3 separate regions of the Homo sapiens genome follow, and regions 1 and 2 are each linked to region 3. The links come from fine-mapping of genetic effects on gene expression. A gene starts in region 3. Each other region holds a variant in brackets. All regions are shown on one strand. Distances are from middle to middle. Region 1 overlaps SETD2 (SET domain containing 2, histone lysine methyltransferase). Region 2 overlaps SETD2 (SET domain containing 2, histone lysine methyltransferase). Region 3 holds the start of NBEAL2 (neurobeachin like 2).

Region 1 (8,000 bases), 100 kb after region 3:
TACACAATATCCAGGGGCATCATATCTATAACTTAGTTGTTGTTGTTTTGTTTTGTTTTTTTTTACACAAAGTCTCACTCTGTCATCCAGGCTGGAGTGCAGTGACACCATCATGGATCACTGCAGCCTCAACCTCCTGGGCTCAAGCAATCCTCCCACCTCAGCCTCCCAAGTGGCTGGGACTACAGGCATGTGCCACCATGCCTCGCTAATTTTTTAGTTTTTGTAGAGACAGGGTTTTGCTTTGTTGCCCAGGCTGGTCTTGAACTCCTGGGCTCAAATGATCTGCCCACCTCTGCTGTAACTTACTTTTTTAAAGTTCAGAAACAGAAAACAATAAAAAAAATAAGGTAAAATGTTAACACTGGGGAATCTCAGTGAAAAGTTTAGAGGAATTTTTCACTGAATTTTCTCTAGACTCGTCACTAGAATGTGTGTAACATGTAGAATATGTACAGAATGCTGTTCTTGCAGTTTTTCATTGAGCCTGAAATTATATCATAATTAAAAGTTTAAAGTATTAAGAAGGAAAATGTATGTGTTTTCATTATGGTTACTATAAGACTTAAATTATACTGCCTACATCTATACTAAAACAGTCTCAAGTTTCTGACTTGGTCACAGTCCTAAGGGAATAACAATATTCCTTAATGATCACTTCTAGCTTGGAAATTCTATAATGTATACACCCTCCCACCTCTCAAGATAGTTGTACAACCAAATCACTTCCTAAACAGCATCAAGACTTTTTTAAAAAAACTAATTTCATGGGCAGCAATAGAAACATGATCATTATGTCTTTAGGGAAACAGAATTAAGAGCTCACCCAAAAGAGTAAAGTGAAAATGACTTCATTCAAAACCAGAATGTTTAGAGCAGCCAGATTCTGCACTTTATCTTTTAGATCAGATGTTGGCAAACTTTTTCTGTAAAGGACAAGATAGTAAATATTTTAGGCTTTGTGAGCCATCCAGTCTTTCTCACAACTACTCAACTCTACCACTGAAGTACAAAAGCAGCCACAGATGATAGTACATAAATGAATGAACATGGCTGTGTTTCAAAGAAAATTTTATTTACAAAAACAGACAGTGGGGCAGATTTGGCCAACCCTTGATTTAGATGAAAGTATTTGGTTAAAAAATGGACCAATAAATTTTAGACCATTTTTGCCTTCTACCAAACGAGACATTTATTTAAAAATTTCAATGTTGCTGTAGCTAAAACAGCATTCTTTAGGGGCAATTCTAATTTTGTTAAAGGATAAGTAATATTAATCCTTATGGATACAGAATAATCTTACTCTAGTAAGAATTCAAAAATTATCACAGAAATCCAGGAAACATAATTTCATTTTCAAATGTTGCACAGCAGATTTCACATACAATATTAGCGAGGGAGTGAAATTCCAAACAGTGACTCAAAACTTCTCAGTTTAGGCAACTCTATGTTTTATTTTAACTTTTCATAGAGAGTTTTAATACATAGCTTTCTAGGGAAATACTTGATTTGCTGAATTAAAGATAATGTCTTGAGATAAAGATGAAATAAGAGAAGAATAAGAATAGTCATTAGGAAGAGTTCAACTTATCACATGTAGGTAATTTTGTCCCTAAATCATCTAAATCCAGATGCAAATGGAAATACCCAGACTTCATTCTAAGGAGAAATGCACATCCTATAATCTAAGTGTTTATAAGAGAGGCTCTGGAATCACTAACCATTACAATCTCTCGGTGTTTAATGGCAAATGAAATTGCCAAGTTCACAGGAACCTTACCTCCTCTTCTTATGATCCAAATGAATGAAGATATTCCAGTCAAGTTACACTTAGTCACCACTGGTAACCAGCTGTTTTGCCCTATGAAGTCTAGGGTATATTTTCAGCATGAAGGGTGATATGCAACAATTTCTTCTGCAAACAGAAATATATGCACATATCCCTGCTGAAAATGTAGCCTAGTAAATTTTCACATGAAAATGAATACATGCTCACAAGTGGCAATGTGCTAGGTGATGTTTCTGGTTGAGGTCTACTTTAGGAGTCAAAATGTGTAAGCCTTGTGGAGTCAAGGCAGTGGTCCTGTGTATATAGGTATAGAAAAAGTAGCTCACTTAATCCTTTCTCGCCAGGAGTAGGGATTTTCCCGGAACGACATCCATTGTCGGCAATGGACGCACCAAAATAACGCCGGCGCCAGTGAGTTAACCACCTCTGTCCTCTTTTCACCTATTATATTTTTCATGCATCATCCAACTTCCCAACCATCTTCCTGTTTCTTCACAGAATGCACGCTAGGTTCTCGTTTTTCTTCAGCACGAAGTTGGAAATGGAGTTGAGAAAAGGAGACACATGGTCAGCTGGTGATGTTAACAAGCTCCTTGCTGCCCTGAGAAGCTAGATGGAAATGGTTCAAGTTACAAGGGGGATCATCATCAGATCTGGGAGGACAAAGAGTAATTCATGAAGCTTCATTCCCTTCCCTCCCACCCTCTTTCATTTACTGATGATTCCTATAGTCTGCCATCACAGCAAAACCAAGATTAAGGAATCTGAAGCAATCCCTTTCTGTTCTTCACTCCATCCAGTGTGTAGAAAAGCCAAGCGGAACACATGTCCACCAATGTTATGGTGGCCCCCGGTTGGCTGGGGAGACTTGAAATGGCCATAACCACATAACCACAATCTTAGACCAATGCTTTTTAGTACGATCTTGGAATTAAAGATCAGCAACTAACACAGTGTTTGACAATAGGTGCCTAATAAAGGTTGGTTGAATAAGACATTTTCTTTTCAGCCAATGTCTACTCGAACACATAGGTGGAAGTCAGACAGAAGTAGTTAACTCTTTCAATGCCGGGATCGTATGGATATACAGTAATCACATCATGTCAATGTGTTTCTCTAAAACATGTTCAAATTATGGATTCCTGATTTCAGACTTCTGGTTAAATGCTATCTATGTTTGTCTGGTTTTTTTAAGAACCACCATAATCAGAGTTTTGAAAACAGAGCCATAGTAAATGTTAATTAGAATGATGGATGAATTAAGAACCCCAGCACCAATGTATAACAAAACATCACAGTTCACAGTCAAGTAAAAACATTTCTCAGTAATACAATTCTAGATGGGTAATGATTCCAGAGCAAACTAAAGTTTGAAGAAGAGAGGAGAATTTTACTTAACGGCTCCCTTGACACTAAGAATCAGGAAAAATCCAAAGTATGAAGGATAAGAAGGATATATTTTAAGTACAAATAAAGTTTTAAACCTCAAATCAAGAGGATCATCAAGCTACATATAAAATTGCTTTGATGTTTCAGATAGGAGTGGGGAAGATAAGAAGAAGGGGAAGAAATAATTTTGTAGGACTCAAATGTGTGTCCAGAGTGTGAGTTTAAATTACCATGGTTACATCTAATTGGGTTAAGTATATCCTAGAGAGTAATTCATACCATCACAATTACAGAAACCCACTATCATACGAAGAAACAAGAATATTTACTTTTTCCAGATTTTAAGATAGCTTTACAATGATTACTTCTTAGCAGTTTTAAAAAATAACATCAACCAGAGACTTCTCCGGCAAAAGTAAACTACTGGTCTACAACCCTACTTATTCTTCCTTCCATAAAAGTACAGCTATAAAGGCCTTTTCTGTGTCCATTTGTGTACTTGTCTTCATCTCCACCTTCTTAACTGAGCTTCTTTACAGGCTCCACTAGCAGCCTCCAAACACAAGAGGGACTCCTTTTAGGGACTCCTGTGCTGTCACAAAGCAGGCCTTAAATAAAAATCCATCAAGTGACTATCCCAGCACTTCTTTCAATTAACTGCAATTCTGATTCCTGCAGTTCACATACTGACTTCATAAGTAAATTTACTACGAACTCTTCCTTTCATATTTAGAAAAAGGCCTGATTTCCTAAGACATAATAAGGCTGACTTTATACTGAATTGTAAGTGATGAAAGTAACATGAGTAAGAGCTCAAATGGGTAAACAAAAGCTGAAACCACAACATACTTAAAGAAGGGTCTCAACACAGCAAATGAGGAAGCATAGTACACAACCACCAACTACTCATTTTGCTCAGTGTTTAAGGCCAGTTTCATTGGGTCAAATCACAGGATCTAATGGAGTGAGCTTTGTCATCATAATTAGGGGCAGGGAGGATTCAGGTGTTCATCTTGCTGCAAAGAGTCAGGATTGCTGGTTTATTTGGTTGCTTCATCTCCGGCAGAAGAAAGGAGGAACAGAAAAATAGAAGCTAGTTAAGTAACCTGTTCCCACAGGGTCCTCAAGACGTGGATCCCAAGTCCAGATCACTTACAAATGAAATGTACCACACCTCTCCTAGGTTTATCCTGTTATTCATTCTTGTGTTTATCCAAGACTCAGTCTGGGTTTTCTGCAAAGCAAACCCTGCACATCTTGCTACATTCTTCAACAAGAGATTATGTATGTAATAGGCATAAGAGTTCCAGATCTATTTTTCCTCTTTTGTCCAAAGAAATAGGCATTTAAAAGCAGGCCCATTTCAGAAACAATAATAGAAGTGAATACGAACTAGTTCCATAAAGT[T/A]GTTTTTCTAAAATAAAAATTTACATTCAATCATTTTTAGTAAGCTGCTAAATTATCTTAGTTTTCCAATTATTTTTAATTTTCCATTAATACAACTGATTTCCAATAAATTTAAACACTAATTTTTTCTCATTACAAATAGAATCCTAAGTTTGCTCCTCAAAGGATTTTTGTTTTTAATGTGAAGAGCACTTAAATGACTGAACTCACTATTGTGATGTACTTTTCTAAGTGACAGAAAAGAAGACATTTGTATATTAGTTTGGCTAATATGACTCTTGCCACGGTTTAGAGGATGTTTGAGACACTTATAAATAAAACAGTAAGAGAGACAGTATTCCATTTTTCAGAAATATGCATGGCTAAAAAAAGTAGTTAATTTTGCTTAGGTTTGTAGAACTCTAAACCTGAGTAATTCAAGTTGAAATGAACAAAAGATGCTTCCTTACCTTTAGGTCTTTCCAACTGTCCAGGAGTTTGGTGGCCAAATCACTTATATCCACTGTTTTATCTGGCTGTTCTTGGCTCCTTTCACTCTCCACATCAGACACACCCTCCTCTTCATCTTGGGATGGTGTTTCTTCATTAATAGGTTCTTCTAGTTTTGTGCCGTTGCTCTCTTTGGGCTCTATTTCAGCGTCAGCTTCTGGTTCAGATGTAGGTAGCTTACTAGCTTCTATGTTGGTTTCACTATCAACTTTGCATTCAGGCAGCTGTTGTGGGAGTAGCTGTTGTGACTGCAATTCTTCCTCTTCCTCTACAGGGACATTTTCTAATTGATCAAGATCCTCTTTGCCATCCTTGCCTTCTAGCTCACTGGTTGCATCAGAGATTGCACTGTCCATGCTATTTTCACTTATAATTTTCAGTCTGCGAAACATTAGTTTCTTGGGAGTGTCTGTGTCAGCTTCTGTGCTCAGCTTGGTGGAAGGATCAGGTGTGTTGAGTGGTGTATGAGCACGCGATGTATTCTCACTAGAATACCCATCTCCTTCACTCAACGGAGGGACAGCAGTCTTAGTCTGAGACCAGCGTTGAATAATTGGAAGTACTTTGCTTTCCTCCAACATATTTTTAGTAGGAATGGGCAAGTGTTCCAAAGTCTTTATAATCTGATTAAACATAAAAAAAAATTACATCACTTTGTACAGTTGACTTTTTTTTTTTTTTTTGAGACAGAGTCTCACTCTGTCACCCAGGCTGGAATGCAATGGCATGATCTTGGCTCACTGCAACCTCTGCCTCCTGGGTTCAAGCAATTCTCCTGTCTCAGCCTCCCAAGTAGCTGGGAGTACAGGCGCTAGCTGCCACGCCTGGCTAATCTTTTGTATTTTTAGTAGAGACAGGGTTTCACCATGTTGGCCAGGCTGGTCTCAAACTCCTGACCTCAAGTGATCCACCCACCTCGGCCTCCCAAAATGCTGGGATTACCAGCATGAGCCACCACACCTGGCTACAGTTGATTTTGTTTTTTTTTTGAGATGGAGTTTCGCTCTTGTTGCCCAGGCTGGAGTGCAATGATGTGATCTTGGTCACTGCAATCTCTGGCTCCCTGGTTTAAGCGATTCTCCTGCCTCAGCCTCCCGAGGAGCTGGGATTACAGGGATGCACCACCATGCACAGCTTTTTTTTTTTTTTTTAGTAGAGATGGGGTTTCTCCATGTTGGTCAGGCTGGTCTTGAACTCCTGACCTTAGGTGATCCACCTGCCTCAGCCTCCCAAACTGCTGGGATTACAGGCATTGAGCCACAGCGCCTGGCCTACAGTTGACTTTTTCAATTTCTGGATGGGACTCAGATTATTTCTGCAAGAGTAGTGCAGTTTTGCTACTGCTTTATTAAGAACTACATCTCTGTAAACACAAGCATATTTAAAAATCATAATATTGTTTTCCTTAAGAAAGAAAAACTTTTAATAAGACTGATCAGCAAGAATCACAACATCAAATAGGACTGATTAATATTCTCTACCAGTAGTTCCTAAACCTGGGTAGCTTTTTAAACATATACACTACTGGACCAATCCTGGGTATCTTTTCTTAAAAAGTTTACCAAGTGTCTGTGATATACACTTAGCAGCTATGTAACAACATATTTAAATGATGTCTGTCATACACACAAAAATGCAGACATCTCTTCAGCTTTTGATAAACAGCTGTCTAGCAAAGAGAGATCCCCTCCTCATTCTTAGACAACCTCCCCCATTTTGAAATCCAAGAATTTTTTCTGAAGTATTCCTCAATGTAGTTCCACAGAAACCCCAAGGCTTCCTCAATTTCCTCAAGCCAAATCTCCTGGGAGAAGGACAGAGGCAAGAACAAGTACTTATCTGCCCATTCCTTTTTGTTTGTTTTTAAAAGTGTTTTATTAAATAAAAGACTCTGGGATTATATTACAAATTAGAAAGTTAGAAAATTTTATTAATTTCATAGAAAGGTAAAGACATCGTAACTCCACTAATAATGCTGCCAATGAACCTTTACTTAGATCTTTTAAAACACTTATTTAAAAGATTCCTCAAAATGTTCATACTCTTGTTATGCAGAATTCAGATCTTTACCAATTCTTTAGACCCCACAGTTCAAATTTTATATGACTTCCCATCTTTTTAAAACTCTGGTTTTAACAACAAACTGGATCTTTCACTTAACTATGTTGTTGTTATTATATCTTGCTCTTGTAGTTCCCTGCTATGTAGTACCAACTTTAAAAAGATACTATAGGAAAACCATGGGACAAACTACTAACAAGGTGTATGTACGGTTAGATACGTTAAAGGAATGATACTGAGATGAAAAAATTATTTGATTATTTAATACCAATGATACAGTGCTAAATTCATAATTACTGATATTATCACATATCCACAACCGAGGCAATCAATATAACAGTTTTAAGAAACAAGCAAGCTAAATGTGAACTGACCTCTTCCTGAAGCTTCTGGTTACTTTCCCGGCCGTCACCTAGCTCTGCCATCCAGATCCACAACAAAGACAGCCCATGACGTTCCAGAAAGGACTTCAGGCAGGACTGTGAGTGTGTGTTCTTTCATGGGGGAAGGGAGACACGATGCAGAGCATTGGGAGGCAATATCAGAATATTACAAAGAGCCCGAGGAGAGTTCATGTATACGTTACACATTATAGGGTTCACTTACATTCACAAAAAAAACCTAGAAACTCTGTTTTCATTAGCCTAAATAGAACTCTACAACAAATGCTTTAAACAGATTATAATCTTCTCTGATACACAAAATACAGCCAGTCAACTGGGATTTTACTAACGTAGAAAATTATATGAATATTAATAGGTCATTTATAATGAAAATTCTGAAGAACTAAGAAAAAATTGCATCTAACTTTTTAAATAAAGCTAAAACCATAAAAATTAGTCCTTAAATAATTCTTTCTTCTCTC
Region 2 (8,000 bases), 66 kb after region 3:
TTCTTTGATTAAGTAAAAGCAGACATGGGAACGCCCATACAGCTCCTCTTACCTTGTGATCACATGGTAGTAATAAATCTTCCCTTCTGGATCTCGAGCTGTCTTCCAGTTGGGAGGTAAGACAATGGTTTTTGGTTTGGGAGGAGAGGGGGGCGGCAGATCCAAGAGATTATTTGTCACAACCATTTCAGACTACAAAGAAAACACACACATTTTTGATCAGTGATCTCTCTCTTAATCTGGCTGAATAGGACAAAATAGCCCACTTAAATATGTAAAAATGTACATCTACCTCCTCTTAAAAAAAGGATAAAGGAAAGGTACAGTCTGGGAAATAAGGGACAGTATATATAAAGAGGTTTACAGAGCTATCAGAAAATTGACAGTTGGCTCTAAGTTTACCATCCAAGATACCATATAGTTTATCATATAGAGCAGCATTTTTCAACTTTAAAACACCAATTCTAAGGCATATCAACTGCAGGATACCAATTAACTAAATGGGATACAGAAATATCTTTATCTTTAAAAAAAAAAAAAAAGAAAAACCAAAAAACCCCCTGAGAAGCAAATATGACAGAATGTTAACATTATCCATTATATTTTTTCCGTACTTGAAACCTCAAAACTATAAAATATTAGTGCCACATTCTGAAAAACATAAAAACCTCATAATCACTTATGGACTGATTTTTGTTTCCCCAAAACATGTATGTTGAAGCTCTAATCCTGCTGTGACTGTTACTGGGACACAGGGCCTGTAAAGAGCTAATTAAGATTAATGAAGTCAAAAGAGTGAGGACTTTTTATCTAATAGGATGGTGTCCTTATTAAAAGAGAACTGACACCAGAGGACACTCACAGAGAAAAGGTATATACAGCAAGAAGGCAGCCATTTGCAAGCCAAGGAGAGAGGCCTCAGGAGAAACCAACACTGCTGACACCTTGATCTTGGACTTCCAGCCTCAAGAACTGTGAGAAAATTTCTGTTATTTAATCCACTCAGTCTGTGGTATTTTGTTACCGCAGCCCTAGCAGACTAGTAATCACCACAAGGATATATACTTGTTCCTTCTTTCAAGCCTATTAATGAAGAATACATTTTTTACCTTTACCTTTGCTTGCACAGTTAAAGAGGAACCTGAAGACCCCAGGCTCAGATAAAATGTGTTCACTTTTAAGCAAACACGGGTCTTTGAGCATTCTTGCTTTGTGTATACTCTTTTTTATCTCTTATTTCACCCAGCTGGGGTTTTCTGGCCCAGCTTAAGTTTCAATTCCTCCATTACCCTATCCTTTAGCTTATAAAGTGACCTCTTTTCCCCAAGCTTCTGTGTCCCTTAATATTCCAAACCATTTATCTCTTAATAGTTTAAGGCAAAAAAGAAAAAATATATATTCCAAACCATTCAGTACTTATTCCCAACACAAAACTTTATTTTTAGTGTAGTCACCATCTTTCTCTTGTGATCATCATCTCTCTTATTTGAAAGATCAGCTTTTAAGAATACAAATGGAAACTTATTTATGTTTGTATTAAAAATGCCTAGTCGGCCAAGCACAGTGGCTCATGCCTGTAATCCCAGCACTTTGGAAGGCCGAGGCAGGTGGATCACGAGGTCAGGAGTTTGAGACCAGCCTGGCCAACATAGTGAAACCCTGTCTCTACTAAAAATACAAAAGTATTAGCCAGGTGTGGTGGTGTGCACTTGTAATCCCAGCTACTCAGGAGGCTGAGGCAGGAGAACTGCTTGAACCTGGGAGGCGGAGGTTGCAGTGAGCCGCGAGATCAAACCACTGTACTCCAGGCTGGGCAACAAAGCAAGACTTCATCTCAAAAAAAAAAAAAAAAAAAAAAAAAAAAAAAAAAAAAAAAAAGGCCTAGAAGGGCTCAACTCGTAACAAGCACTCAAACATCTGCTCTAAGTACACATTATCTTATTATCCTGTTATTTCACATATAGTATTTTTAGTCCATCTTCACTAACTGTCCTGTCTAAAGTCATCATCAATTGCTGGATTGCTGCAAGAGCTTTCTCCAGAACTGTAGGTGTTCTAAAGTGCTGATTTGACCATGCTATTCTGTTTAGTTTTTTCAGTTGTTTCCCATGCCAACCTCTTATTTTCCACTTTATCCAAAAACAACAACACTTTGAGATTTCACCATATCCTCCTACATATGTTGCAGAATACCAAAAGCTTATCTTAATATTAAACATCATATAAAAAACTTTTTTTAAACATTGTACAACATGTATAGTGAAGTATATCACACAATTCTACATGCCTAGTCCATGGTGACTAGTACAGTATCATATTCTAGTACAGGTTAAGCAGCCCTAATACAAAAATACAAAACATTTTGAGTGCTGACATGACACTCAAAGGCCATGTTCAAAGGAAATGCTTATTGGAATATTTCAAGCTATACATTTTCAAATTAGAGATGCTCAAGTGGTAATTATAGTGCAGATATTCCAGAATCCATAAAATTCTGAAATGTGAAATACTTCTGGTCCCGTGAAGCTCAGATAAGGGATACTCAACCTGTACGCGGTAAATACTGATAGATAGCTGGTCTAGGAAATTGTTACTTCGGCCAGGTGTGGTGGCTCACGCCTGTAATCCCAACACTTTGGGAGGCTGAAGCGGGCGGATCATGAGGTCAGGAGTTCAAGACCAGCCTGGCCAACATGGTGAAACCCCGTATCTAAAAATACAAAAATTAAGGTTGGGCACAGTGGCTCATCCCTGTAATCCCAGAACTTTGGGAGGCCAAGGCGGGTAGATCACGAGGTCAGGAGATTGAGACCATCGTGGCTAACACAGCGAAACCCCGTCTCTACTAAAAATACAAAAATTAGCCAGGCGTGGTGGCGGGCGCCTGTAGTCCCAGCTACTCAGGAGGCTGAGGCCGGAGAATGGTGAGAACCCAGGAGGCGGAGCTTGCAGTGAGCCGAGATCATGCCACTGCACTCCAGCCTGGGCGACAGAGCAAGACTCCATCTCTTAAAAAAAAAAAAAAAAAAAAATACAAAAATTAGCTGGGTGCAGTGATGCACACCTGTAGTCCCAGCTACTCAGGAGGCTGAGACAGGAGAATCACTCGAACCCAGGAAGTGGAGGTTGCAGTGAGCCAAGATCGTGTCACTGCACTCCAGCCTAGGTGACAGAGTTAAAAAAAAAAAAAAATTATTACTTCAAAAATTCATAGTAAAATATAAAAATACAAGGTCAGGGTAAACAACAAATAAAAAGGATCCTAGGAGCATTTTTTTTTTTTTTGAGATGGAGTCTTGCTCTGTCACCTGGGCTGGAGTGCAGTGGCGCGATCTTAGCTCACTGCAAGCTCCGCCTCCCAGGTTCACGCCATTCTCCTGTCTCAGCCTCCTGAGTAGCTGGGACTACAGGTGCGGAGCAAAATATGTATTAACGGAACTATAAATTCCACAGAATTAAAAAAATTTTTTTTTTACAAAATGGTTGAGTTCACGCCCTCAGGGTGGCTCAGGTGAATTTGGTGGCTACACAAATTTAAAAACGGGCCGGGCGTGGTGGCTCATGCCTATAAATAATCCCAGCACTTTGGGAGGCTGAGGCGGGTGGATCACCTGAGGTCATGAGGTCAAGACGAGCCTGGTCAACATGGGGAAACTCCGTCTCTACTAAAAATACAAAATTAGCCAGGCGTGGTGGCACACACCTGTAATCCCAGCTACTCAGGTGGCTGAGGCAGGAGAATCGCTTTAAACCAGGAGGTGGAGGTTGCAGTGAGCCAAGATTGTGCCGCTGCACTCCAGCCTGGGTGACAGAGCGAGACTCTGTCTCAAAAAAAAAA[T/A]AAAATAAAATAAAATAAAACAAAGAACACGTGAAAAAAAAACCCAAAAATAAAACCCAAAACAAATCCAAACCAAAAAGAAAACCTTCCAAAGACAAAGTAGACAGCCAATGAGTTTTAACAACTGAAACATTTCTTACTGGCTGCAAGGGCTGAGGCTGCCCTGGTGCAACTATTGTAGTCACTGCTGCGGCTGGCTGTACCACCACTCCTTGTGGATGAGCTGTGAAAATCTGTTGCCCCTGGATATACTGAAGACTTGGCTGGGCATAACTCTAAAAGATAAAATGAAGAAATCAATAATTTAAGCTTTTGTCACTTTAATAAACAGACTGACTTCCAAGTTGGCACAATCTTAAAGATATACCCATAACATTTTAAAATTTTTTGTTTATATATTTGGACATAAATGTGCAAAACAATTTTTTGTTTCAAACCCCAAAGTTTCTTTTTTTACTAATTCCCTATTCATTTACTTACTTTGATTTTACTTTATCATAAGAAAATAAAAGCTTTTTTTTTTTTGGTCATAGAAATTCTCCAACTGTTTAGCTTTCAATGACATTGGAATGACATTGAAAATTAAACAGGTGGACAGTTTCTATAAGCAAAAACCAATGAAGTGCTGCTCCTGGGATATCCAAGAAACAATGCCACGCTGCTCTTTTCAGGAAGGCTTTTGCTACCAACTTGTAATAACAAACAGGTTGTTTGGATCAGAAAAGGTCAAAGGGTGTGAATCATAGTAAATAAGATGATCAAATTTTAAGCTACCTTTTGTTTTAGCTTTTTGTAGTCTTCTATGATAAAACCCCTTGGCAGAAAGCAGAATCAATGCATCTGAAATTCTCACAACACACCAATTTATACAGTGTTCTATGATGCAAGAAGCCCCTTAACATACATCATCTCATTTAGTGCTGACCACCATCAAAACCAGGTACTGCCCATGCCTGGAGTTTCATAAGAAATAAGTACTATGCTAGGGCTTAAACCTACTCTGTAATTATTTCTCAAGCATAGAAAATCTGCTTAAATAAGAAGAGGTGATAAGAAGACTGAAAAATAGCCTTGCTGTCCTAAGAGGTGGTGACTGTTAAGGAATTGAATAGACATGTATCCTGTGCTTAAGGAGAGATTTTGCTCCTATGGACTGAGATTCTAGCAGGTAAAATGATTACAGAAACATCAAATGCTAAGTACTCAAAATACAAAATATAATTCCAAATGACACCAGTAAAAACTCAAGTAGTCTGAATAGGCAATGCAGCTATCTAGCAGGTTTCTGAATGAATAATTACTGACAGGACACAGGAAAAAGGAAAAGAACACTTAATTTGGTATTCTGGATCAGCTTAATCTACTTGGATAATAAACCAGACTGAAAAACATTAATTGTTAAGGCAGAATTACCATCAGAATAGTATCACAAAGCCTGAGAGGAAAATGTACAGTCATGTATTGCTTAACAAGGGGGGTACATTCTGAGAAATGCATTGTTAGGAGATTTCATTGTTGTGGTAACATCATATAATGTACTTTCACAAACCTACTAAGTGTATGAGGTACTTACACATCATACAGTGTACTTCACAAATCTATTAGATACCTAGGCTATATGGTATAGTCTGTTGTTCCTAGGCTACAAACCTGTACAGCATGTTTCTGTAATAAAGACTTGTAAGCAACTATAACTTAACAGTATCTGTGTATCTAAACATGGAAAAGTTACAGTAAAAATACAGTATAAAAATTTTTTAGGCCGGGGCACGGTGGCTCACACCTGCAACCCGAGCACTTTGGGAGGCCAAAGTGGGCGGATCACGAGGTCAGGAGATCGAGACCATCCTGGCTAACACGGTGAAATCCCATCTCTACTAAAAATACAAAAAATTAGCCAGGCATGGTGGCATGCACCTGTAGTCCCAGCCACTCAGGAGGCTGAGGCAGAAGAATCGCTTGAACCCAGGAGGTAGAGGTTGCAGTGAACCGAGATGGCACCACTGCACTCCAGCCTGGGCAACAGAGCGAGATGCCGTCTCAAAAAAACAAAATTTAAATGGTACACCTGTATAGGGAACTAACTATAAACAAAGCTTGCAGGACTGGAAGTTGCTTTGAGTAAGTGAGTGGTGAGTGAGTGAATATGAAGGCCTAGGACATTACTGTACACTACTGTAGACTATAAACACTTGGGCTACACTAAGTTTATTAACATTTTTTTAATAAATTAACTGTAACTTACTATAACTTTTTTACTTTATAAACAAATTTTTTCAACTTTTTAACTCTTTTATAACACTTATCTTAAAATACAAACACATTCTACAGCTGTATAAACAACCCTCCTCCCTCCTCCTCGCCAGGGTGGAGAGCAGTGGTGCGATCTGGGCTCACTGCAACCTCCACCTCCCGGGTTCAAGCAATTCTCCTGCCTCAGCCTCCCGAGTACCTGGGACTACAGGTGCGTGCCACCACGCCTGGCTAATTTTTTTTATTTTAGCAGAGACGGGGTTTCACCATGTTGGCCAGGATGGTCTCCATCTCCTAACCTTGTGATCTGCCCACCTCAGCCTCCCAAAGTGCTGGGATTACAGGTGTGAGCCACCGTGCCTGGCCTATATTTTTTTTAAAAAAGAGTCTCATTCTGTCACCCAGGCTGGAATGCAGTAGTGTGATCATAGCTTACTGTAGCCTTGAACTCCTGGACTGAAGCAATCCTCCCATCTCAGCCTCCCGAGTATGTGCCACCACGCCCAGCTAATTAAAAACAAATTTGTAGAGACAGGGTTTCGCTATGTTGTCTAGGCTAGTCTTGAACTCTTGTGTTTGAGTGATTCTCCTGCCTTGGCCTCCCAGATTGCTGGGATTACAGATGTGAGACAACACACTGGGCCAAATATTTTTTTTATATCCTTATTCTTATTCTATAAGTTTTTTATAGAATAAGTTTTCTAAATATATATATATATATATATATATATATATATATATATATATATGTATTCTTATATATATAAACTTATTCTTTTTTTTTTTTTTTTGAGACAGAGTCTGGCTCTGTCGCCCAGGCTGGAGTGCAGTGGCACGACCTCGGCTCACTGCAAGCTCCGCCTCCCGGGTTCACGCCATTCTCCTGCCTCAGCCTCCCGAGTAGCTGGGACTACAGGTGCCCACCACCACACCTGGCTAATTTTTTGTATTTTTAGTAGAGATGGGGTTTCACCTTGTTAGCCAGGATGGCCTCGATCTCCTGACCTTGTGATCCGCCCGCCTCAGCCTCCCAAAGTGCTGGGATTACAGGTGTGAGCCACCGCGCCTGGCCTATATATAAACTTATTCTATGAGTTTATATTATATATTAAATATATAAACTTATTCTGAGTTTATATTATATATTATATATATAAACTTATTCTATGAGTTTATATTATTATATATAAACTTATTCTGAGTTTATATTATATATATTATATATATAAACTTATTCTGAGTTTATATTATATATAATATATAAATTTATTCTGAGTTTATAGTATATATTATATATATAAACTTATTCTGAATTTATATATTATATATAAACTTATTCTATAAGTTTATATATTTGTACATATATTTATATGTTTTTCTTATATATATAAATTTATGTTTCTTATATATATAAACATATATATATATGGGAAAAACATACATTTTGATAGAGGAAACATGACCAAGTATTTCATAGATCAGTAAGGTATCTATATTTTAGAATAATCTTATTGTATATTTCAAAATAGCTAGAAGAGAATAATTGAATGTTTCTAGCATAAAGAAAAGACAAATATTTATGGTGATGGATATCTCAATACACTGATTTTTACAAATTATATGAATATATTAAATTATCACATGTACCCTGAAAATATGTACACCTATTATGTATCAACATAAAAAAACAAAAACTAAGATATAAACACACACACTAGCCTAGGCTTACACGGAGTCAGGATCATCAAGATGTCAGAAGGCCAGAAGAATTTTTCACCTCCATAATAATCTTACGAGGATCACTGTCATAAATGCCATCTGTTGTTGACCAAAACGCCATTGCATGGCACATGATTGTATTTATGTACAGGCTGAGCATAAACATTTCTGATTTCCCTAATCAGAAATC
Region 3 (8,353 bases):
TGGAGTACAGTGGCGAGATCTCGGCTCACTACAACCTCTGCCTCCCAGGCTCAAGCGGTTCTCCTGCCATAGCCTCCCGAGAAGCTGGGATTACAGGCGCGCACCACCACGCCCGGCTAATTTTTGTATTTTTAGTAGAGGCGGGGTTTCACCATGTTACCCAGCCTGGTCTCGAACTACTAACCTCAAGTGATCCGCCTGCCTCGGCCTCCCAAAGCACTGGGATTACAGGCGTGAGCCACCGTGCCCGGCCTCTTTTTGATTTTTGCACGAAACGACTCCGGCTGTATACCCACTGCTGTCACTTGCTGCCCTGTCCAAGGAGTGCTGCCGGACTGGGGAGTCTGTCTGACTCAGAATCGAAGGCGGGGGTTAAAGACCAGCTAGGCCATAGAGGAACGGAACAAATCACGCCTAACCCAACAAGCATCTGAACCTACAGGCAGCCCTAGATACCTACACGAGCAACACCCGGGAAGCAGGAGTCAGATGGACTGCGGGTCGCTGACCACTGCCTTGCCCACCCCCGCGCATGCGCGACGACCGCACCAGCGCCAGAGGAGTCCCACGCCAAGCAGCCCCAGACATCGTGGGAGGGCGCCGTCTTCTCGCGCATGCGTTAGCGCCCGCGCATGCGCGCCCTCGGCAGCTGTCTTTCCTTATTAGCCCTTTGCTCTCCTCAAGCGCGACCCGGACCCCGAACGCTGGACGCCTCAACTGCGACCCTCACTCCACACTTCTCACCTTGCGCCCGGTTTTCTCCCGTAGGGCCTTCAGCCGTTCCTTTCGCCGCAACGCCTCTTCCTCTAGCCGGCCCACACCAGCCGTAGTTGCCTCCATCTTGCCCGCGTACGCCCCTCCTTTTCTCCCGTCTTGCATCGCGCAGGCCTAAGGAGAGTGGATAAATGTCTCGCGGCCAATCCAAGGACGAGAATGAGAGACTGGGAGGTCCTGAAAGCCAATCAATGCGGGGTTATTATGGGCGAGCCCTCCCCGCCTTGCCCCGCCCCGCCCCGCCCCGCCCTTATTCTTCCGGACAACTTGCCTAGTGGGTGGGGAGCCAGCAAAAAAAAAAAAGAAAAAAAAAAAAGCTAAGGCTCGATTTATCCAACGCTGATCAGTGAAAGAGCAGCAAGTGGAATTCAGACCTGAGAGAAGGAGAAAAGAGTGCGTCGATCGCTCCGGTTTTGCCCAAGTACTAACCACACTAATCACTCCATGCTGGCCTCTTGGAATGCCCTGACTCATCCTTGTCCACTTGACCTGACAAGGCTCGAATGCCTTCAAGAAACCTTCCCTGGGCCGGGCGCGGTGGCTCACGCCTGTAATCCCAGCACTTTGGGAGGCCGAGGAGGGCGGACCACGAGGTCAGGAGATGGAGACCATCCTGGCCAACATGGTGAAACTCCATCTCTACTAAAAATACAAAAATTAACTGGGCGTGGTGGCGCGTGCCTGTAATCCCAGCTACTCGGGAGGCTGAGGCAGGAGAATCGCTTGAACCAGAGAGGCGGAGGTTGCAGTGAGCCGAGATCGTGCCACTGCACTCCAGCCTGGCAGCAGAGCAAGACTCCGTCTCAAAAAAAAAAAAAAAAAAAAAAAAGCCTTCCCTGATCCTCCACTTCGATCCCACCCTAATACAAGGTATGACTTACACCTCTGCAGCTGTCAGTGGCTCCCCGGACTCACCTGACAAGCGCCCCTAAGCCCCTCTGTGACCACTCTCAGCTCAGACAAAGCCTGCACAGTGAGGGGGACCTGACTGTATGGCTGTTTCCCTCTGGACTCAAAGATGATCCCCTCTCATTCCCATCCCCTCCTGGAGCAGCAAAGTCCTCAGGGTCAAGTTACCTTTCCCGGGGAAGAGCAAACCCCAACCTGGGTCCAGTGGGCCTCAAGTACTGCCCCCAATCCCCAGCTTAGAAAGACTTGGGGTGGCCTCGACTGCAAGTCGCCACAAGATTCATGGCTACCCAGCAGAAGCTGCCAGAGTCTTCTTTCCTGCATGAACTAGAGTGTCCTGATAACCGCGAGACCACTTAGGCTGAAGTCAAGATATTCTTTCAGTATGTGGGGGTCCCCAAAGCCACACCCCCTCTCACTTGGGAATAGGAGACCATGCCGCCCCCTCTCCACCTCCACTGCCAGGGGACAACTAGCCTCTTAGGCTGTTCCCTCCCTGAGTCTTCCCTTCCCAAGCTGGCTACAGGTGGACATCCACTCTTCCCCTTCCAACTCCCTTCAGAGGCCCATGGGCCACAGACTGCAGATCTAGCCCTCCCTTCACTAACCCTCTTGTCCTCACTAACCTGGGTCTGTCTAAGCCTTCTTCCCTGTAGTGGATGGGTTGCTCTGCCAAGGCCTGGCATGCAGTTTGGAGGTGCTCAGGAAACCTCAGCTCAGAGCTATGATGGATGAAGCAGGACAAAAGGCCAGAGGTGAACCAAGAAGCTGGGAGAACAAAACAGGACAGGGTCTCTGTTGTCTTGGCCAACCAAGGTCTAGGAGTCTCCAGACTGGTCAACTCCTGGAACGAGTAGCACCCCTCTGGGCCCAGAAAACTTCTCCCCAGCCCCAACAAAGAGCCTGATCCCTGCCCAACACCAGGGGTTGGGTCCCTGCCACCATCACCCCGTGCCCCTTTCCCCGTGTCCAGACTGTGAGGTAAGGGGATGGGGAAGGGGGCACGGGGTGATGGTGGCAGGGACCCAAAAAAGAGTCAGTCAAGCCTGGGTCCCTGCCCCTGCTGCCCAAGTGGTCCTCATTTGGTCAACTTGGGCCTCAGTTTCTCCATCTGTAAAACAGAGCCGGCCGGGTGCGGTGGCTCATGCCTATAATCCCAGCACTTTGGGAGGTCGAGGCGGGTGGATCATGAAGTCAGGAAATCCAGACCATCCTGGCTAACACGGTGGAACCCCGTCTCTACTAAAAATACAAAAAATTAGCTGGGCCTGGTGACACGCGCCTGTAGTCCCAGCTACTCAGGAGGCTGAGGCAGGAGAATCACTTGAACCCAGGAGGCGGAGATTGCAGTGAGCCGAGATCGAGTCACTGCACTCCAGCCTGGGCGACAGAGTGAGACTCTGTCTCAAAAACAAACAAAAAACAGAGCCATGAGGCACCCACCTGTTGAGGTTAAAGAAACAACATATGTGAAGCAAGTTCTGGGCCCTGGAGTTGGGGAATGGGGGGAGCCCCTCCACTGGAGCGTTTGGGAAGGCTTCCTGGAGGAGGGAGGGGGACCCGTGGCAACGGTCTAAGCCTCTCTGGGATCTGGGAGGGCACCGCGGCCCCGAAGGTATTTCAGGCTAGTCCTGCTACTCTCTAACTTCCCGCCATCACACTCCACAAACAGCTAGAGCTCAAAAGTTGCGTTTCGGTCTTCCCATAAAGCGACAGAGTAGCACCTGGCATTTGATAAGCGCTACAAGGGGTCGTCATGGTGGTGGTGGAGATTATTGTTGAAGGACCCTCGCCACCTCCACGCGGCCCGCCGCCCCTTCCCTGAATGGCGGCAAATGCAGTCAGGCGAGCAGCGTCCTGGGCGGATTCAGACCCTGGGGAAGTCTGGAATTCCTCACCCCGACCCTCGTCCCGGAGGCTCAGGCTGGCCCTTCCAATGGCACTGGTGGGGCAGGGCAGCGGGGCACCCTCCCGGGCCGCCCGGCCCATAGGCCCCTCCTCCTGCCAGGCTCTCCGCCCTTTACATGGTCCCAGGAGAGGCGGGGCGGCGGTGACTGCAGCGAAGTGCAGGAAGCTGGGCGGCGGCCGGCAGTGAGGAGGAGGAGCGAGCAGACTTGGGTGGCTCTGCGCCGCGGAGGCCACAGCCGCAGACTTCCCCAGTAGTACCGCGCCGCTCCGCCCCGGAGTGACGCCCTCCGCCCATGGGCCTGGCCGAGGGCAACCGGCGGGCGGCGCGGAGGAGGCGGCGACAGGTGGCGCGCAGCAGGGCCGGAGCCGGGCCGGGCCATGGCCGCCTCGGAGCGGCTGTACGAGTTGTGGCTGCTCTACTACGCGCAGGTGAGCCCGCCCCGCCCCGCGCCCGCACCCGCACCCGCGGTGCCCCCAGCTTCGCGCGCCCCGCGCCTGCTGCACCTGGCGCCCCGCGCCGCTGGGGCCGCGTAGCCGCGCGCGCGGGCGCGCGCGCGCAGGGCATGCTCCGGCTCCGCACACACGTGTGTGCCCCCAGCCCGCCGGGTGCCTCTGGCACTTATGCCTTGGGGACAGAGCTCGCGGTCGTGCACTTCATAGCAACCCACCCCCGCGAGCAGGACCGTGCAGCCTGAGTCTTTCTTGCTAGAGGAGAGTGGCCTGGGCCGAGGCGGCCGGACACTTGGCCTTTTTACAAATGGGGAAACTGAGACCTGGAGAGACCTGGAGACTGGCCAGGAGGCTAGGGGGAGGGGGACTCAATTTGTCTATGAGCTGCCTCTCCCTTGGGCGCGGCCTGATTGGGTGGTCGTGGCCAACGGGTCTGGGGGTGTGGGCCAAGGTAGGGAGGTGTGTGGAAGGGGAATGCTCCCACTTCAGGTCCTTCTTGAGTTGCATCCCCCCACACCCCAGCGAACAGGCTGTGATAAGCTCTTCCCTGACTTGAAATGACCCACCCCACCCCACCCCCATTCTGAGGGGTAGACCCAGGACCTCTCTAGGAGCAGAAGAAAAGGTTTTCCTCTGGATGCCCAGGGTGAGGGTGGGTCCTTGAGGCCCTGAGGGATGTCTGAAAAGGTTGGAGGGAGGCCCGTTCCTCCTGAGCTCCCCACCCATCTCAGAAAATACTTCAGGTGGAGTCAGAAGGTGAGGGGAGTGACTCAGACGTGGGTGTCCCATCAGCTGAGAACCTGGTATCACTCACACCGTCTCACACACATAGTCCCCCATTTTCCTTCTGTACCCACAGCAGGGAGGGATCCCAGGGTAACACTCCCCTCCCCTTCACCCAGCACCTCCCTCCCTGCACCTGCCTGGCATCATGCTCCTGGCTCAGGTGTGCCCTGGGCACAATGGACCATTGTGTGCCCTGAACAGTTTGTCAGTGGGGGGAATTCATGCTCAGACACGCTGGCCCTCCATAAGGAGGCTGGCCCACTGTCTTCCACGGACCTGGAGTCCAGGCCAGAAGGACCACAGCCTCTTCAGTCCGCTCAGGTTGTGAGAGGTCCAGGCCCCAGCAGGAGGCCAGGCATGGAGTAGAGTCCCTCTTTGGTATAACTCAGATCGAACTCGACTTCTGAGCCTCTGCTTCCTGCCTGTAAAACTGACACAGCCCTGGCCGGGCACGGTGGCTCACACCTGTAATCCCAGCACTTTGGGAGGCCGAGGCGGGCAGATCACAAGGTCAGGAGATCGAGACCATCCTGGCCAACATGGTGAAACCCCATCTCTACTAAAATACAAAAATTAGCCGGGCGTGGTGGGGTGTGCCTGTAATCCCAGCTACTCGGGAGGCTGAGGCAGGAGAATCGCTTGAACCAGGGAGGCAGAGGTTGCAGTGAGCCGAGATCGCGCCACTGCACTCCAGCCTGGTGACAGAGTGAGACTCCGTCTCAAAAAAATAAAATAAAAATAAAAAACTGACACAGCCCTGACCTCAGGGGCTTCCTGGACTCTGTGGAGAGGTAGCCATTATAGCTGGTCCAGACCAGAGAAGGCTCCTGTTTTCCTGGCCCCATTGGGTCCCCTCGCCCCAGCTTCTCTGCCTGCATCCCCAGTGGTTGTGAAGGAGCAGAGGGTTTGAAGAGAAGCCTACCCTAGTCCTCCTTCCTCGGACTGCCCCATAGCTATGGGCAGGCTCTAGGTGCATGGGCAGGTAAAGGGGGCTTAAACCAGCTGGTGAGTGTGAGGGATGTTAATGATAGGTCTTCAGCCTGGGTGGCAGGCTGCTGGGAGTGTCTTGGTATCTCCCAGGACAGTAACTCCAGCATGGTTGCCTCCTGATGCCCCATCTAGCTGAGCTCTGTACATGGCCACCCCCCATCCCCTCAGGAGGTGGTTATGGCTCATATCTGTGCTGAGCCTCCCCCTCCCGGAGCTCCTCACCTCGCAGGGCAGGTATGGAGCATAGGCTGGCAGGTTGTAGCTTTGGAAGCCTGAGCAGACAGTGGGCAGCCTGGGGCCAGGCAAACAAATCCAGGATGTAACAGCAAACCCCCAAGCCAGGCGGGGCCAGGCTGCCTGGGAAGAGGAAGCTAGGGCCAGCCTCCCAGCTCGCCTTCCTGCCCGCCTGCTCCTGACCCTGATCCTGGAACCCCCAATCCAGGGAGGAGTAGGCTATGCAACTTTGAGTCCTGTTAGGGACCTATTGTGTGTGTGCTTGGGGAGGGGGAGTGCAAGGTAAGGGGCAGAGCTGAAAGTGGGTGTTTAGAGACCCTTTAGTTGGCCAGCCACCCAGCCAGCAACACCTGCACCCCTCCCTTCAGCAGTGAGAGCTGACATCAGCTGGCAAACCTGTTTCCCCAGTTGTGGGTCTGGGTGGGGATGGAGAGGGGGGAGTAACTCCTTCCTGCCCTTCCTCTTCCTTAAAGACCCCAGGTTTAGACCCACCCACCCCCTCCCCCTGGGGGCCCGGCTCAACTGGGGGCCTCATAGTGAGGGAGGGGGCTGTGGGTGGCTGCTGAGGGAAGAGGGAAGGGTCAGAGCATCCCAGGACTTCACTCAGTTGGAGCTCCTTAGGGCCCTGGTGGGGAAACCAAGGCAGGGTCCTACTACGATTGTCAGACCTCACATGCAGTAGGTGCTCCTTGGGTATTAGCTGAATGACTGGATAGAGGAGGTGGGTCCCATGGCAGTGACCAGTCAGGAAGTCACCCCAGAGGAGGCTGAGTTTGGGCTTTGAAGGCTGAGAGGAAGAAACAGCAGGAGCAGTGGGACAAGAAGCAAATTGTCAGGAGTTGGGGCAGGGCAGAGCTAGTCAAGCAGGCCTGGTGGACAGGTGGGGGCTCATCTAGAGGACTCAGAGCCCACCAGAGCTCCCCCAGGGTAGGCATAGGAAGGGCAGGAGAGTCTTGGGGGACTGGGGACAGCACCTGACAGGCTGGCGGTTGGGCAGCCCATAAAAGTTAATGCCACATAGCATGCAGATGAGTGGCCCCTGTTCAGGCCGGAGCAGCAGTGATGTTCAGCAACCCCTCCAGTGAATGGGGTCACAGAGTGAGGGGGCACTGAATGTGGAAGGGCACTCAGGGTCACAAAGTTCAGGGCAGAACAAACCCTCAGGTGACAGGAGGGAGCAGAAGCTGACCTGTCCAGCTATGCCACTGAGGCCTCAGAAGGGTTCAGGGAGGTTAGGTCAGGCTGGAGGCAACCTCGTCCTGCCTACACTTCCCTGAGAGTTCCCTCTCCCTAACTGATGATCTCTACTGCCTCTCAGAAACCTGGTCAGGCCCTCCACTCCCCCGGTACTTTACCTGGTCATATTCCTTTTTTTTTTTTTTTTTAGACAGAGTCTCACTCTGTCACCCAGGCTGGAGTGCAATGGCATGGTCTCAGTTCACTGCAACCTCTGCCTCCCGGGTTCAAGCAGTTCTCCTACCTCAGCCTCCCGAGTAGCTCAGACTACAGGCGTGTGCCACCACACCCGGCTAATTTTTGTATTTTTAGTAGAGACGGGGTTTCACTATGTTGGCTAGGCTGCTCTCAAACTCCTGACCTTGTGATCTGCCCGCCTCAGCCTCCCAAAGTGCTGGGATTACAAGCGTGAGCCACCGCACCTGGCTTTATCTGGTCATATCCTTTTTGGGCTTCAGTTTACCTTCCTGAAATGGGTAAAGGGAAGGTGGAGTCACTTCTTTGGTGCTTGGTCCCCTGCCTCTATTACCAAGGCACCTGAAGGAGAAGGGCCTGTAGTGATAGGGAGATGAGCACACAGCCCAGGCTTGGGTGGGCACTGGTGATTCCTGGAGTTGTTATGACAACTGGGGAGCTGATGGGGAAGTGTGGGGTCCCCGTAGAAACAGGGTCAGTTACCATGGGGTCTATGGGGACCCTAGAAGGAAATTCCCATTTTCCTTAGTGATAGTAAAAGGGATTGGTCAGCTCTTGAGCCGCTTGCTTGAACCTACTTCCATTCTGTGGAGTGTACTTTCATTTCAATAAATCTATGCTTTCCTTGCTTAAAAAAAAATAGTGTCCAGGCGCGGTGTTTCACGCCTGTAATCCCAGCACTTTGGGAGGCTGAGGCGGGCAGATCACGAGGTCAGGAGATCAAGACCATCCTGGCTAACACAGTGAAACCCCATCTCTACTAAAAAAAAAAAAAAAAAAAATTAGCCAGGCGTGATGGCGAGTGCCTGTAGTCCCAGCTACTCAGGAGGCTGAGGCAGGAGAATGGTGTGAACCTGGGAGGCGGAGCTTG

What was found.
Region 1: its variant is fine-mapped to the expression of NBEAL2 in whole blood (INTERVAL, PIP 0.92).
Region 2: its variant is fine-mapped to the expression of NBEAL2 in memory regulatory T cells (Schmiedel 2018, PIP 0.95). The same link has a PIP of 0.9 or more in Th17 cells and follicular helper T cells.

The regions. Positions count from the first base shown.
Region 1 is chr3:47,078,686-47,086,685 of GRCh38, forward strand. SETD2 (SET domain containing 2, histone lysine methyltransferase) reads right to left here. Exons shown (of 21, transcript NM_014159.7): 11 at 7,510-7,629; 12 at 5,035-5,697. Among named protein-coding and RNA genes, the nearest start is that of SETD2, 81 kb to the right of the region's middle. RefSeq lists enhancers at 5,067-5,568, 5,453-5,592. The variant T/A (reference allele first, on the strand shown) is at 4,586.
Region 2 is chr3:47,042,509-47,050,508 of GRCh38, forward strand. It overlaps SETD2 (SET domain containing 2, histone lysine methyltransferase), which reads right to left. Exons shown (of 21, transcript NM_014159.7): 16 at 3,979-4,113; 17 at 53-192. Among named protein-coding and RNA genes, the nearest start is that of NBEAL2, 67 kb to the left of the region's middle. The variant T/A (reference allele first, on the strand shown) is at 3,839.
Region 3 is chr3:46,975,893-46,984,245 of GRCh38, forward strand. It overlaps NBEAL2 (neurobeachin like 2), which reads left to right and starts at 3,774. Exons shown (of 54, transcript NM_015175.3): 1 at 3,774-4,020. The coding sequence starts at 3,970. CCDC12 (coiled-coil domain containing 12) reads right to left here and starts at 853. Exons shown (of 7, transcript NM_001277074.2): 1 at 745-853. The coding sequence starts at 840. RefSeq lists enhancers at 40-741, 566-875, 1,445-2,145, 4,048-4,828, 4,829-5,609 and 1 more and silencers at 966-1,105, 3,501-3,690, 3,791-4,130.